Homo sapiens: one gene and its partners. The protein of the gene in region 3 purifies or fractionates together with the protein of the main gene of each other region. This does not show direct contact. Each region holds a gene or a part of one and is shown on either strand. Other genes may lie near its edges.

Region 1 (2,782 bases), on a different chromosome or scaffold from region 3:
TAAGTTGTAACTGTTAAAATTGTTTAAAAATAGTATTTTGGAAACATTTTAAATGTGTAGGCCAGGGTCGGGGGGGGTGGGGGAGTGGGGGGGATGGGGGGGTTGGGGGGTGGCAGAGGGGAGGAGGGAATCCTGAAGACAGCACCCAGAGCTTCATCCACCTTATCCCCGCGCCCCTCCGTTGGCTGCACTGAGCTCAGAGCACTGGCCCTCCTGCAGCCCACACTCCATTCCAACTCCACCGGGGTTCTGTTACTGTCTTTCCCATCCCAGGATCCCATCAGGGCACTCCACTGTGTGTGGCCGTCAGGTCTCCCCAGTGTCATTTGGTCTGTGACAGCTTCTCAGTTTTTCCTTGTTCTTCATGATCTGGACGTCATGAGGAATCCAGCACGGGCCTGATTCCAAGCGATAATTACAAAGAAAAGGCAGTGTTGCCTGATTGCCTTGAAGCACTGGGGAGCCTGTGAGGCCTTAAGTAGGGTCAGGTGAAACCACACATGCCATCTGAAGTCAGAGCTGTGCCTTGCTGGCCCGAGCACAGAGGCCTGTGCTCCCTTTCTGCGCCCTCACACAGCTTCTTCTGCCCGGGCCCCGTCCTGGGATGCCCATGTCTGCCCGTCCGTCCCTCTCCCACTTAGCTCTGCCTTGTCCTGTCTGGTCTTGCTTGCGTTTTTCCTTTTCCATCTTCGAGGTCCCAGCCAAGGTGCTCCATTTCACTTCCTGCCCCTCCGGCCGTCTGTTTTTCAAAAGCTCTGCCCAGGATTTCACAGTGAGCCAAGTTCTGAGTGGCCCTCTCCACTAGGAATGTGGCATCAGCCACTATGTCCTAGCAGATCTGCTAGTGATGACATTTCTTTAACAGTCAAAGGAGCAGGTGGGATTGGCTTTAGACTGACTTCACATCTCTGCTCGAGCAGGTCCCTGCTCAAGGGCCTCGTAACCACCCATGGCCACTGGCTGCTGCCCTGGACCGTGCAGGCCTTGAGCTCCCAGGGCCATCCTGGGGCAGGGGCTGTGCCAGGCACCAACATGGCTTGTTCTCCAAGGTGGCCCACCTGGGGCGCTGGCTGCTGACTCCTGGCCCATCGCCTCACAGGTACAATGCCAGGGAGTACTACGACCACCTGCCCGAGCTGAAGCAGGCCGTGGACCAGATCAGCAGTGGCTTTTTTTCTCCCAAGGAGCCAGACTGCTTCAAGGACATCGTGAACATGCTGATGCACCATGACAGGTGGGACCGACTTCCCTGGTTGGGTGGCTGGGAGGGAGGGAGGGAGGGAGGGGTCCTCTTCGTGGGTTGGATATTCCACCTTGTTTGGAGAGCAAAACCCGTGCTTTCAGGACGTCTTCTCCACTGTGCCCATGAGACCTTACTGGGCAGAGCCTTAGACCCCAGCTGGGAGTTTGCGATGGCCTCTGGCAATGCCAGGGGGCCCTGGGCAGCGAGACACAGCAGCACAGTCCAGCCCCCAGGCCTTGTGGACCAATGTGCTGAGCAGGAGGGGGTGTCCTCTGCTGGTTGGAGGTCCCAGGGGCAGCCGTGTCCCAGCAGGCCAGTAGAGGGAGCATGGGCCCAAAACTCCCTGGGGTGGGGTAGGGGGCGCACAAGGGCTGCGGAACCGCGGCAGGCGTCAGTGCCAGTGACAGGCAGTGGTGAAAATGGATTTCACTTGCAACGATGTGACATTATAATGTAGTTAGTGTTTTATTTCAGTGCAGTTAGCACATGGTATGGTTTATCTAGAGTTACAGACTTTGTAAGGTTTGCAGCTCAGGGCAGTTCTTCACCGTTGGCAAAAGTTGAATCCGGCGAGGGCTGGGAATTCACCTGCCCTCCACTTTCAGCTGCCTTTGGGTTAGTTTTAGTTTTGTCTGCTGCTCTTCGATGACCGTGTCACCTGTTGGCTTCAGTCACACCAGCTCTGACCACATGCTGGGATCTGGGCTGGAACCTGGGCCCTGCTGAGGTCTGTGATAAAGGAAGTGCTTTTAAAATTGTGAACTCTGCATTTCGTGAAGTGTGCTTCTGACTCGATAGTGAACAGAAATGCATTTGTAGATTCATAAATCTGGCATTTTTGTTCAGCACATCAGGAACTGCAAGTCAGTATTTCCTGTGTAGGCAAATCCCAGTTAGACTTAAGACGGCAAATGGAGATGCCGTTCCCCAGCAAGTGCCCCCTGCCCTGAGGCGGCGCCATGGGCTCTCCACTGTCTGCCCAGGAGGCCTCTCCCATGTGCAGCTCTAACTGCCCTGCGTGTGGAAGACACGTTTTAAATGCCAGTTTATTTAAAGGAGTGTTGGGTTGAAATAAGGTTTTTCTAAAATATTGTCCCAGGACATAAGTGTTGCTCACAGAGAAGCCCTGTGGCCAAATGGGCCTGGTGCAGCCTGGCTCTGACCAGCTGCGTGGGTGGGCCCCTTCGCTCCAGACAGGACCAGGTGGATGGTGCCTGGCCTCCTGCCCTGGGACTCTCCCCTCGGGACAGTGTGGGCAGGGCTCCCTGCTGCCCTGGCCCAGCCTCCTTTCTCCCATTCCAGGTTCAAGGTGTTTGCAGACTATGAAGCCTACATGCAGTGCCAGGCACAGGTGGACCAGCTGTACCGGGTGAGGCTCCTGGGTCCAGAGGCTAGGGGAGCAGCTGGGTGGGTCCATGTAGACGTGTTGGGTCAGATTGTTTATTTCCCAAGCTGAGTAGATTCTTGGCCTGGGCCAGAGGGGTTTGTGATTCTGATCTGTCATCAGTCGGCTGTGCCTGCCTTTAGGGAAGCTGTCAC
Region 2 (3,568 bases), on a different chromosome or scaffold from region 3:
CAGCCTCCTAAAGTGCTGAGAACGCAGGCATAAGCAACTGCACCTGGCCTCAATCTTTCTTTATGAGACTAAGGACTAAGGTATGTGTGTTCTTTCCATATTCAAACCCAGAAATTTTTAAACAAGTATGTTTAAAATTACTGAAGTACTAACAATTCACATGATAAAAACGATTTTCTGGCCAGGCGCAGTGGCTCATGCCTGTAATCCCAGCACTTTGGGAGGCGGAGGCGGGTGGATCTCGAGGTCAGATCGAGACCATCCTGGCTAACACGGTGAAACCCCGTCTCTACTAAAAATACAGAAGATTAGCCAGGCGTGGTGACGGGCGCCTGTAGTCCCAGCTACTCGGGAGGCTGAGGCAGGAGAATGGCATGAACCCGGGAGGTGGAGCTTGCAGTGAGCTGAGATCGCAGCACTGCACTCCAGCTTGGGCGACAGAGCGAGACTGTCTCAAAAAAAAAAAAAAAAGATTTTCTTACTCAAGCTGCTCAATTAAGTCATGTAATGCAGAAAAGGTAAAGAAAAAAAATTGTCAACTTTGACACTAAAAATGTAAAATGTAGACCAGGCATGGTGGCTCACACCTGTAATCCCAGCACTTTGGGAGGCCAGGTGGGCGGATCACTTGAGGTCAGGAGTTCAAGACCAGCCTGGCCAACGTGGCAAAACCCTGTCTCTACTAAAAATACATAAATTAACCAGGCATGGTGGCATGTGCCTATAATCCCAGCTATTCAGGAGGCTGAGGCAGGAATATTGCTTGAACCCGGGAGGTGGAGGTTGCAGTGAGCTGAGATTGCACCACTGCACTCCAGCCTGGGTGACAGAGTGACACTCTGTCCAAAAAAAAAAATTACAAAACGTAAATCTTCCATTCAACAGAAACTTGCCACAAACAATTATGTTAAAAGACAAGGCACAAAGTAGGACTAAGTAAAACACACATAAAGAGTTAAATGGGGCTGGGCGCAGTGGCTCACACCTGTAATCCCAGCACATTGGGAGGCCAAGGCAGGTGGATCATGAGGTCAGGAGTTCAAGACCAGCCTGGCCAAGATGGTGAAACCCCGTCTCTACTAAAAATACAAAAATTAGCTGGGCACAGTGGCAGGCACCTGTAATCCCAGGTACTCGGGAGGCTGAGGCAGGAGAATCACTTGAACCCAGGGGGGCAGAGGTGGCAGTGAGTCGAGATCACGCCACTACACTCCAGCTTGGGCGACAGAATGAGACTCTGCCTCAAAAGGAAAAACAAAAACAAAAAAAAGCTAAATGGTTATTATCTGGAGCATATAAATAGCATCTTCAAATCAATACCCTCAAAATTCCAGACGAAAAATGAGCAAAAAATATAGACAATTCACAAAAGAACTATGAATACCAATATATTTGTGAAAAGATGCTCAACCTCAATAATAGTTTTATAACAAGGTACCAACATGCTCACTTCCACACACAGTAAAATGAGTTACCCATTTACGGCCTACCAGTTTTGAAAAAGAAAAAAGAAGACCCGATAATATCTAGTTTTGGCAAGAGTGTGGGCAAATGCCTTCATATACTGTTGTTAAGAATGTAAACTGGGGACCAGATGTGGTGGCTCATGCCTGTAATCCCAGCACTCTGGGAGGCCAAGGCGGGCAGATCACAAGGTCAGGAGATGGAGACCATTCTGGCCAACATGGTAAAACCCTGTCTCTACTAAAAACACAAAAATTAGCTGGACGTGATGGCACATGCCTGTAATCCCAGCTACTCAGGAGGCTGAGGCAGGAGAATTGCTTGAACCAGGGAGTCGGAGGTTGCAGTGAGCCGAGATCCGTGCCACTGCACTCCAGCCTGGCAACAGAGTGAGACTCTGTGTCAAAAAAATAAAAGTAAAAGAAGAATGTAAACTGGGACTGACTTTTTGAGAGAATTTGACAGCATGAAATTTTTACCTACAAAAATGTTGGTGAAGCATGATGGCTCATGCCAGTAATCCCAGTATTTTGGGAGGCCGAAGTGGGTGGATCACCTGAGGTCAGGAGTTTGAGATCAGCCTGACCAACATGGTGAAACCCCATCTCTACTAAAAATACAAAATTAGCCAGGCGTCGTGGCACATGCCTGGAATCCCAGCTACTTGGGAGGCTGAGGCAGTAGAATCACCTGAACCCAGGAGGCGGAGGTTGCAGTGAGCTGGGATCACGCCATTGCCCTCTGGCCTAGGCAACAAAAGTGAAACTCCATCTCAAATAAATAAACTTAAATGTAGACTACCCAATTCCAATTCTTATAGAAACCTAGCCTGCAAAAATACTTGCAAATAAAAAATGTTCCCTGAAAATTTATTTGTAATAGAGAAAAATTAGAAATAAACTGAACTGTCCTTAATAGCAGAATTGGTAAATAAATTATGGTAAATTCATACTATAAAACAGGGGTCCCCAACCCCCAGGACACAGACCAATACTGATCCACAGCCTGTTAGGAACTGAGCTGCACAGCAGGAGGTGAGCTGCAGACAAGGGAGCATTACTGTCTGAGTCCCGCTCCTGTTAGATCAGCAGTGGCATTAGATTCTCATAGGAGCACGGACCCTACATATGAGGGATCTAAACTGCAGTCTCCTTATGTGAATCTAATGCCTGTTGATCTGAGGTAGAATGGTTTCCACCTCACCCCTGGTCTGTGGAAAAATTTTCTTCTAGGAAGACAGTAAACCAACCAGTACCTGGTGCCAAAAGGGCTGAGGACTGTTGCTATAGAATACTAACACAGTGACGTATATCTATATATCCTAAAAAGGAAAAGTGCATCACAGAATAGTACAGCTATCAATAAATATTTGTTGAATGAATGAATATAAACAGGCCCATTTATTTAAAAGGAGAGAGGCATAATATCTCTGTGTCTAAATAAATATACAAAGGTCTGAGACCGGGCACAGTGGCTCATGCCTATAACCCCAGCACTTGGGAGGCTGAGATCGGAGGATAGCTTGAGCTCAGGAGTTCAAGGCAACATGGCGAAACCCTGTCTCTCCAAAAAAAAAAAACAATTAGCCAGGCGTGGTGGTGCAGGCCTGAGGTCCCAGCTACTCAGGAGGCTGAGGTGGGAGAATTGTTTGAGTCTGGGTGGTTGAGGCTGCAGTGAGCCAACATTGCACTACTGCACTCCAGCCTGGGCAAAAGAGTAAGACCCTGTCTCAGAAAAAAAAAAAAAAAAAAACCCCACACACACAAGGTCTGGAATGTTGCATGCCAAACTGTTCAGTGTGATTATCTCTGAAGAAAGGCATGGGATTGGGATGGAGGGCAGGGATCTAGGAGAAGAAAAGGGTTGAAGGAGACTTTTTTATTTTTTACTCTTTGCAGTTTATCTGAAGAGTTAACAACCAATATATATTCATGCATTACTTGTATGTTAATACATGCATTTCTCATATGAATACAATTTTTAAATTTTTTTTTTTTTTTTGAGACGGAGTCTTACTCTGTCGCCCAGGCTGGAGTGCAGTGGCGCAATCTTGGCTCATTGCAATCTCTGCCTCCTGGGCTCTAGTGATTCTCCTGCCTTGGCC
Region 3 (3,568 bases):
GGCTCAAGCAGTACCCCGCAATATCAGCCTCCCAAGTAGCTGTGACTAAAGGCATACATCACCACACCCAGCCAATTTTTATATTTTTTGTAGAGATGGAGTTTCACCATGTCGTCCAGGCTGGTCTCAAACTCCTGGGCTTAAGGGATCCAACCACCTTGGCCTCCCCAAGTGCTGTGATTATAGGCATGAGCCACAGTGCCTGGCCTTGTATCAGTTTCTAATAGTCCAGCGGGCCCAGTGACTTTGTTAGCAACTTCTTTAAAAGTGATTATTATTAGGCTGGGTGCAGTGGCTCATGCCTGTCCTAGCACTTTAGGAGGCCAAGGCAGGAGGATTACTTGAACTCAGGAGTTTGAGACCAGCCTGGGCAACATTGAGACCTCATCTCTTAAAAAAAAAAGTGATCATTATTAGTGTTTGTCTAGGGCTAGATGGGTTGGGGGGAAATTGGGAGTGACTACCACTGGGTACTGGGTTTCTTAATGTAAATGAATAAAGTTGGTTGCTATAAAGGGACTAGGAGCAGGCAGGACCATGGGGTGTATTAGAAGAGTATATGCCCTTCTAAAGGGGACAGCCACTACTCTGTTTTGGTCTACTACTTCCTTATCTAATTGCAGGCCCGATATAACTACATCTTTTAATTTTCAGGAAAAGCAGGAACTGGGTATTTTTAATTGCTCCTAATTTTTTAAACAGTACAACAAATTAAAAAAAAATTTAAACACTTTGCAAGCCAGACTGCAAAATATGAAGATAATCCTTCATGGACCAAATATTATAGGCTAGATCAGCTACAGATTAGATTATCTCTGTTGACCTGGCTAGCTGTAGGACTCCTTTTAAAAAAATCTTACAAAAATATAATGTAGGACAGGCACAGTGGCTCATGCCTGTAATCCCAACACTTTGGGGGCTGAGGCAAGAGGATCGCTTGAGCCCAGGAGTTCCAGACCAGCCTGGGCAACATAGGGAGACCTCATCTCTACAAAAAATAAAAAAATTAGTCAGGTTTGGTGGCATGCACCTGTAGTCCCAGCTACTTGGGAGACTGAAGCAGGAGGATTGGTTGAGCCCAGGAGTTTGTGACTACAGTGAGCCGTGATTGCACCACTGTACTCCAGCCTGGGCGACAGAGTGAGACGCTTTCTCTAAAAAAAAAAAAAAAAAAAAGAAGAAGTATGTATGTATGTATAGCTTTTTTTTTTTTTTTAATGCTATCGGTAGATCACTGTGCCTGTTTTGTTCCAGACACTTAGTGGGTGCGTTACAGAACCTGTCTCCTGCAAATGCGTAATCAGTACACTTGTAGAGAGTACTTTAACATATCTAATTTTACTGTCAATGCCTGTATACATTATTTCAATTTTAAACTTGAAGAAGCAGAGACTCATAGATGTTAAATAATTTGACCATGTATCACACCTGGTTCTTAGCAGAGACTGACTGAGTCCTCGGTTTTTTTTTGCCTCCTAATCTAGTAATCTGCTATACTAGTTACTACTGCGCAAACACTTTGGTAGTCTACTGACAGATATTTGAAATAAAAATCTTATTTAACATCTTGAAATAGAAAAAATAAACCATGTAGGTATTTTGCTCCCTGTTCAATTCCATCTCCCTCCCTACAGAATAAGAATGTGTTTGGTGGCAGTGGTAGTTTAAGGGCCTATGTTTATTGGATGTCTCTGATGTGTTATACCAGTGCTTTAGTGTTAGTTACCTTCTGAATCTAGTGACATGTCAATAATTATGTTAATCTATTTCTAAGAAGGATGGAGGGAGGTCTTACAATAAAATACGTAACTACAAAGAAAACAGTGAATAAAAATAAAAGCACACATTTGAACAATGCAGATATAGCTAAGTACATGGAGAAGGGTCATTATCCTGGTAAGCCTGTCTAAAGAGATCTAGAGCAAAAATCCTGGGGTACAGGTAAAATAAAGGTCATTTCAGTAACATTTTGGCAACCTGAATTCAAACATACTTAAATTTGTGGAAAGAGAAAAATTAGTTTAGGTCCTCCCCTCTCCCCTCCTTCCCAAGGGAGATCTGTAGCTATTTGTAGGTTATAGCCTTTTTCTTTTTTTCCTTTTTTTTTTTTTTTTTTTTTTTGAGAAGGAGTTTGATTCTTGTCACCCAGGCTGAAGTGCAGTGGTGCAATCTTGGCTCACTGCAACCTCCGCCTCCTGGGTTCAAGAGATTCTCCTGCCTCGGCCTCCCGAGTAGCTGGGATTACAGGTGCCCGCCACCATGCCCAGCTAATTTTTGTATTTTTAGTAGAGATGGGGTTTCGCCATGTTGGCCAGGCTGGTCTCGAACCCCTGATCTCAGGTGATCCGCTTGCCTCTGCTTCCCAAAGTGCTGGGATTACAGGCACGAGCCACCCTGCCTGGCTGGTTATAGCCTATTTCTTTTCTTTTTCTTTTTTTTTTTTTTTTGTTGGAACATTTTATTGAAAAGAAAAACTGTATAAATAAGTTCTTGGTTTGATAGTAACAAAGGCTTATGTTCCCCCTTCCCTCCCCATCTTTGAAGAACTAAAAAAGAAACAAAAAGTTCATCCCCATGACGCCATTCTTGACCAGAGTCTGCCCAGAAGCCTGTCCTGTGAGCTCTTTCTCGATCTGCCTCAATGGGGCCAGGTCATTCTGGGGATGCCTGGTCCCAGGGGCTGCAGCACCTAGTTTTGTAGTTGGGAGAGACTGGGATAGAGCTGGGGAGGTGGCTGAGGTGGTTTAGTGTCAGGAGAAGAGGGCTGGCTGACCCCCCTAGCTCCATTTGGTCTCACAGGTGAGAAGGTACTTGGCTATAAATATGAACACTGATTGAGGCAGGCTTGATCTGGGACTTTGAGGGCAGGCAGGATGATTATGGCCCAGGTACCACAGGATGTGGAGTTTCTGGGCTCAGCATCATGGTATCTGGGGCCCACGTCCAAGTGGAGTAAATTCTAGCTGGGAAGGGCCGTTCAAGCACACGGGAACCCTGGTTTGTTTGTCCACCCCCACCCATGGAGTATCCAAGCTGGTACCTCACCTCCCCCGAATCCCAGTAGCACCCATGTGTCTCAGAAGCCTTTGGCTGCCTCCTGCCATCCTGTGTGCACCCTGAGGCCCTAAAACTCGTCTTGCATCTTGTCAACCTTAGGCCGGACCAGGTGCCCAGTGAACAGCAGGGAGCCGCTCTGGGTGTCCCACACCAGGAAGATGAAGGGGTGGTCGGAGTAGAACAGCTTGGGGCTGCGCAGCTCCTTGCTCCCATAGATGTCCTGGTCAAAGGAGTTGCCGTCTGTGTCCAACTCAAAGGCGGTGGCGTGGAACACGCTGGTCAGGTACAGGTCCTTCTTGTGTGGCATGCGTGACAAGTTTGCCTTGTTCTTGTCAATGGCCTCAGTCAGGCCAAGCCTAGCCAGGAGTTTCTGCAGGTCATGGGAACTTCCACCACCCGCTTGGGCAAGGAGATGGCGACAGGCTTCTGCTTCTTCCCCATCCAGATCTTCAGCTGCTCTTTGGTTACCAGCTTTTTAAGGCCTCGAGGGGCTCCACGTGGTGGGGCATGA
Region 4 (3,568 bases), on a different chromosome or scaffold from region 3:
CCCCAGGAAAGGCTTTCCCGGCTCCCTGTCGGGGGCTGACGGACTCAGCCCGGGCACCAACCCTGCCAACGGCTGCACCTTCGGCGGGGGCCTGGCCGCGGACCTGAGTTTACACAGCTTCAGTGATGGTGCTTCTCTTCCCCACAAGGGCCCCGAGGCGGCCGGCCTGAGCTCCCCGCTGAGCTTCCCCTCGCAGCGCGGCAAGGAGGGCTCGGACGCCAACCCTTTCCTGAGCAAGAGGCAGCTGGACGGCCTGGCTGGGCTGAAGGGCGAGGGCAGCCGCGGCAAGGAGGCAGGGGAGGGCGGCCTACCGCTGTGCGGGCCCACGGACAAGACCCCACTGCTGAGCGGCAAGGCCGCCAAGGCCCGGGACCGCGAGGTCGACCTCAAGAATGGCCACAACCTCTTCATCTCTGCGGCGGCCGTGCCTCCCGGAAGCCTCCTCAGCGGCCCCGGCCTGGCCCCGGCGGCGTCCTCCGCAGGCGGCGCGGCGTCCTCCGCCCAGACGCACCGGTCCTTCCTGGGCCCCTTCCCGCCGGGACCGCAGTTCGCGCTCGGCCCCATGTCCCTGCAGGCCAACCTCGGCTCCGTGGCCGGCTCCTCCGTGCTGCAGTCGCTGTTCAGCTCTGTGCCGGCCGCCGCAGGCCTGGTGCACGTGTCGTCCGCTGCCACCAGACTGACCAACTCGCACGCCATGGGCAGCTTTTCCGGGGTGGCAGGCGGCACAGTTGGAGGTAGGCAGGGCGGCCGTCCGTCCGCCCCCCGCCCCGGCCCCCGCCGGAGGCCCCTTCCTTTGCAGGTTCCCTTCCGCACTCTCTTGCAGCAGGAGCTGAGCTGCAGGTCCCCTGGTGCCGGCCGGCCCCCGCCATCCGTGCACGGTGGCGAACTCCAGTCCTGTGGGGAGAGGGCTCACGCTGAGTCCGTGTGTCTTGGGTTCTCTGGTTGTAACCGCGTCCCTCTTGTTTTCAGAAGGCCACCGTGCGCAGGGCCACCAGAGCATTACTTTCTCCCGTGGAGGTCACCTGCTAGGTGTGGCCGCCCGGGCTCTGGCAAGGCTCTGGGAGCTGGTGTTGGGTAAGAGCGAGTCCCCGCAGTGCCTGCCCAGACAGGGCGGAGAGGAGCCGCCGGGGGGAGCGGCCTGGCCCTGGGGCTGCTGCGGGGCGGGGGGCCGGAGGGCGGAGGGCGGGCCACCACGAGCCTGGCCGAGCCGCTGCTTGTGCTTGGTGCCCGCACACGCCTGGCGGCGCCGTTTCGCTTCCCTTTTTGTGAGCCTGCGGCTGCTGCTCTGCGCTTGCCTGGATGCTGCCGCTTGTTGAAGCTGCGTTTTTCTCTCCTATTTGCAGGTGTCTTTAACCACGCGGTGCCCTCCGCCTCTGCTCATCCGTTTGGAGCCCGTGTCGGCCGCGGGGCTGCATGTGGCAGCGCCACACTGGGCCCGAGCCCGCTGCAGGCGGCGGCCAGCGCCTCGGCCTCTTCCTTTCAGGCCCCGGCCTCGGTTGAGACCCGGCCGCCCCCTCCGCCTCCGCCTCCGCCTCCCCCGCTGCCCCCGCCTGCGCACCTGGGCCGGTCCCCCGCGGGGCCGCCCGTCCTCCACGCCCCCCCTCCACCTAACGCCGCCTTGCCTCCTCCCCCAACGCTGCTGGCCTCTAACCCTGAGCCCGCGCTTCTGCAGAGCCTCGCGTCCCTCCCGCCTAACCAAGCTTTCTTGCCCCCCACCTCTGCTGCCTCTCTGCCGCCTGCTAACGCCTCTTTGTCTATCAAGCTCACCTCCCTCCCGCACAAGGGCGCCCGCCCCTCCTTCACGGTGCACCACCAGCCCCTGCCCCGGCTGGCCCTGGCCCAGGCCGCGCCCGGGATCCCACAGGCCAGCGCCACGGGGCCGTCCGCGGTGTGGGTGTCCCTCGGCATGCCGCCTCCCTATGCCGCGCACCTTTCGGGGGTTAAGCCGCGATAAAGACCTTGCTTAGCTAGCAGTGCGTATTGTGTAAGGTAAGGCCAGAGCCCTGCGCGGTGGCTCACTCCAGACACTGAACTGTCCTTCCTTTGGCAGAGAAGACGGCCACAGGGCTCGGCAGAAGTTCCGGGGGTCCTGAGGAGGGAAGAGGGAGAGAGCCAGGGAGACCAGGGAGATGGTCGCGAGAGGAGGGACTACAGGACGGGCACCAGCCATGGAGTGGCCTGAGTGTGTTGGGTTCCAGCTGCCCGCAGCTGGGTTCCTGCGGTGACGCCGCAGGACTGAGGCCAGCCCTGGGGGCAGCTGTGCCAGCCCCTGTGGGCGAGGCTCACGGGGTGCCAGGCCAGGGGGCTGGGAGCTCTAGCTCCTAGAGCAGTCTCCAGGGCTCCATCCGCACCAGGCCCAGGTCACTCATGACGGGTGGCGTGGCTTGGTGCTGTTCCCCAGGCGCCCAGCATGTAGCAGGCACGGTGCCGGCTGCAGAGGTCCTGGAGAGCCAGGGTGGCTGGCTGGATGCCTCTGGTCGGGGCTGTCTGGCCAGTAGCCTCGGATGCCCTCATAGGGAGCCAGTGAAGCCCCAAGTGCCCTGCCTGCCTGGGGGCTGATGGGTTCCCGGCGGGGTCGAGAGGCAAGCTCTGTGCCCTGCGTGTTGAGGCCCCCTTGCTGGACACGGCTGATGGCCACACTGCCCTGTGGTCATGGCCCACAGCCGAGGGGCTTTCAGCTGCTCAGATGTCAGCACCAAGCTGGGCAGGTTAGTGTAGACGGTGCCCACCTTTGAGACCAGAAGGAAGTTGGAAGCAGGAGTGATTTTGATGATGTGAGGCCTTCAGGGAATGTCCTGTTCACTCCTCCCCCAAGAGGCTGTGGAGACTGTGGCCGCTGACCCCTGAGGGCAGTTGGCCACCCGTGCCCTCCAGGGACATGGCGTGCCTGGCGGCGTAGTGCAAAGGTGCCCTCTGCTTGCCCCTGGCCTTCTGCCTCAGGGGCCCCTGGGACACAGGCCTTCCTGGGCGAGTCCAAAGCCCACCGGGCAAGGAGAGGAGGACTGGGAGCCAGGAGCCAAGGCGGAGGCTGTGGCCAGGGCTGGTCAGCCTGGCGGGTCAATGCGGGCACCTGCGGGCTGGACAAGCTATGCTGGGTCTCTTAGGAGATGAGCTGCAGGTAGGGTGGCTTTAGCTGGACTCGGCTGTGTGTCTCCTTTGGAGGAAGGCTGGAGCTTGGCCGGCGTGTCCAGGTGTCAGGCTCCCTGGTCTGTCACGGGGCACGCCCGTCGTCTGTTGTGGTTAGAGGAGCTGGCACTATGCCTGTCATGGTGCTGGCCCCAGGTGGCGTGTGTGCTCGTGGGAGGCCTCGGTCCCCAGCCTGGGTGAGTGTTGGGCTCCCCCAGGCGCGATGGTAACCTCAGGCCGCTCTTCCCGCTGTGCCCTTCTGCAGGTAACTAGGATTTCTACCTCAACCGCGAGACCTATGCAAGGACGGTGTGGACCAACTCGCGCCCGCGGCATGGTGCCCGCCGGCCTGCCGGGCTCCCACCCCTGGACGGCAGAGGCAAGGACGGACGGGAGCTCCACTGTGAATCGGCGGCACGCGCCGCAGGAGGCTGGGACTGGT

Evidence for each region.
Region 1: the proteins of KIF24 (region 3) and PYGB purify together in Homo sapiens (affinity purification with mass spectrometry; one large-scale study listed by BioGRID and IntAct). This does not show direct contact.
Region 2: the proteins of KIF24 (region 3) and WDR47 purify together in Homo sapiens (affinity purification with mass spectrometry; one large-scale study listed by BioGRID and IntAct). This does not show direct contact.
Region 4: the proteins of KIF24 (region 3) and DOT1L purify together in Homo sapiens (affinity purification with mass spectrometry; one large-scale study listed by BioGRID and IntAct). This does not show direct contact.

The regions. Positions count from the first base shown.
Region 1 is NC_000020.11:25,293,059-25,295,840, forward strand, and holds part of PYGB (glycogen phosphorylase, brain form), read left to right. Parts: intron 1-1,099; coding exon 1,100-1,234; intron 1,235-1,684; exon of another isoform or gene 1,685-1,914; coding exon of another isoform or gene 1,915-1,972; intron 1,973-2,545; coding exon 2,546-2,612; intron 2,613-2,782. UniProt on the Homo sapiens protein: Glycogen phosphorylase that regulates glycogen mobilization. Phosphorylase is an important allosteric enzyme in carbohydrate metabolism. Enzymes from different sources differ in their regulatory mechanisms and in their natural substrates.
Region 2 is NC_000001.11:109,032,051-109,035,618, forward strand, and holds part of WDR47 (WD repeat-containing protein 47), read right to left. Parts: intron 1-3,568.
Region 3 is NC_000009.12:34,319,212-34,322,779, reverse strand, and holds part of KIF24 (kinesin-like protein KIF24), read left to right. Parts: intron 1-3,156; exon of another isoform or gene 3,157-3,272; coding exon of another isoform or gene 3,273-3,340; intron 3,341-3,568. UniProt on the Homo sapiens protein: Microtubule-dependent motor protein that acts as a negative regulator of ciliogenesis by mediating recruitment of CCP110 to mother centriole in cycling cells, leading to restrict nucleation of cilia at centrioles.
Region 4 is NC_000019.10:2,226,394-2,229,961, forward strand, and holds part of DOT1L (histone-lysine N-methyltransferase, H3 lysine-79 specific), read left to right. Parts: coding exon 1-734; intron 735-1,343; coding exon of another isoform or gene 1,344-1,954; exon of another isoform or gene 1,955-3,391; coding exon 3,392-3,399; 3' UTR 3,400-3,568. UniProt on the Homo sapiens protein: Histone methyltransferase. Methylates 'Lys-79' of histone H3. Nucleosomes are preferred as substrate compared to free histones. Binds to DNA.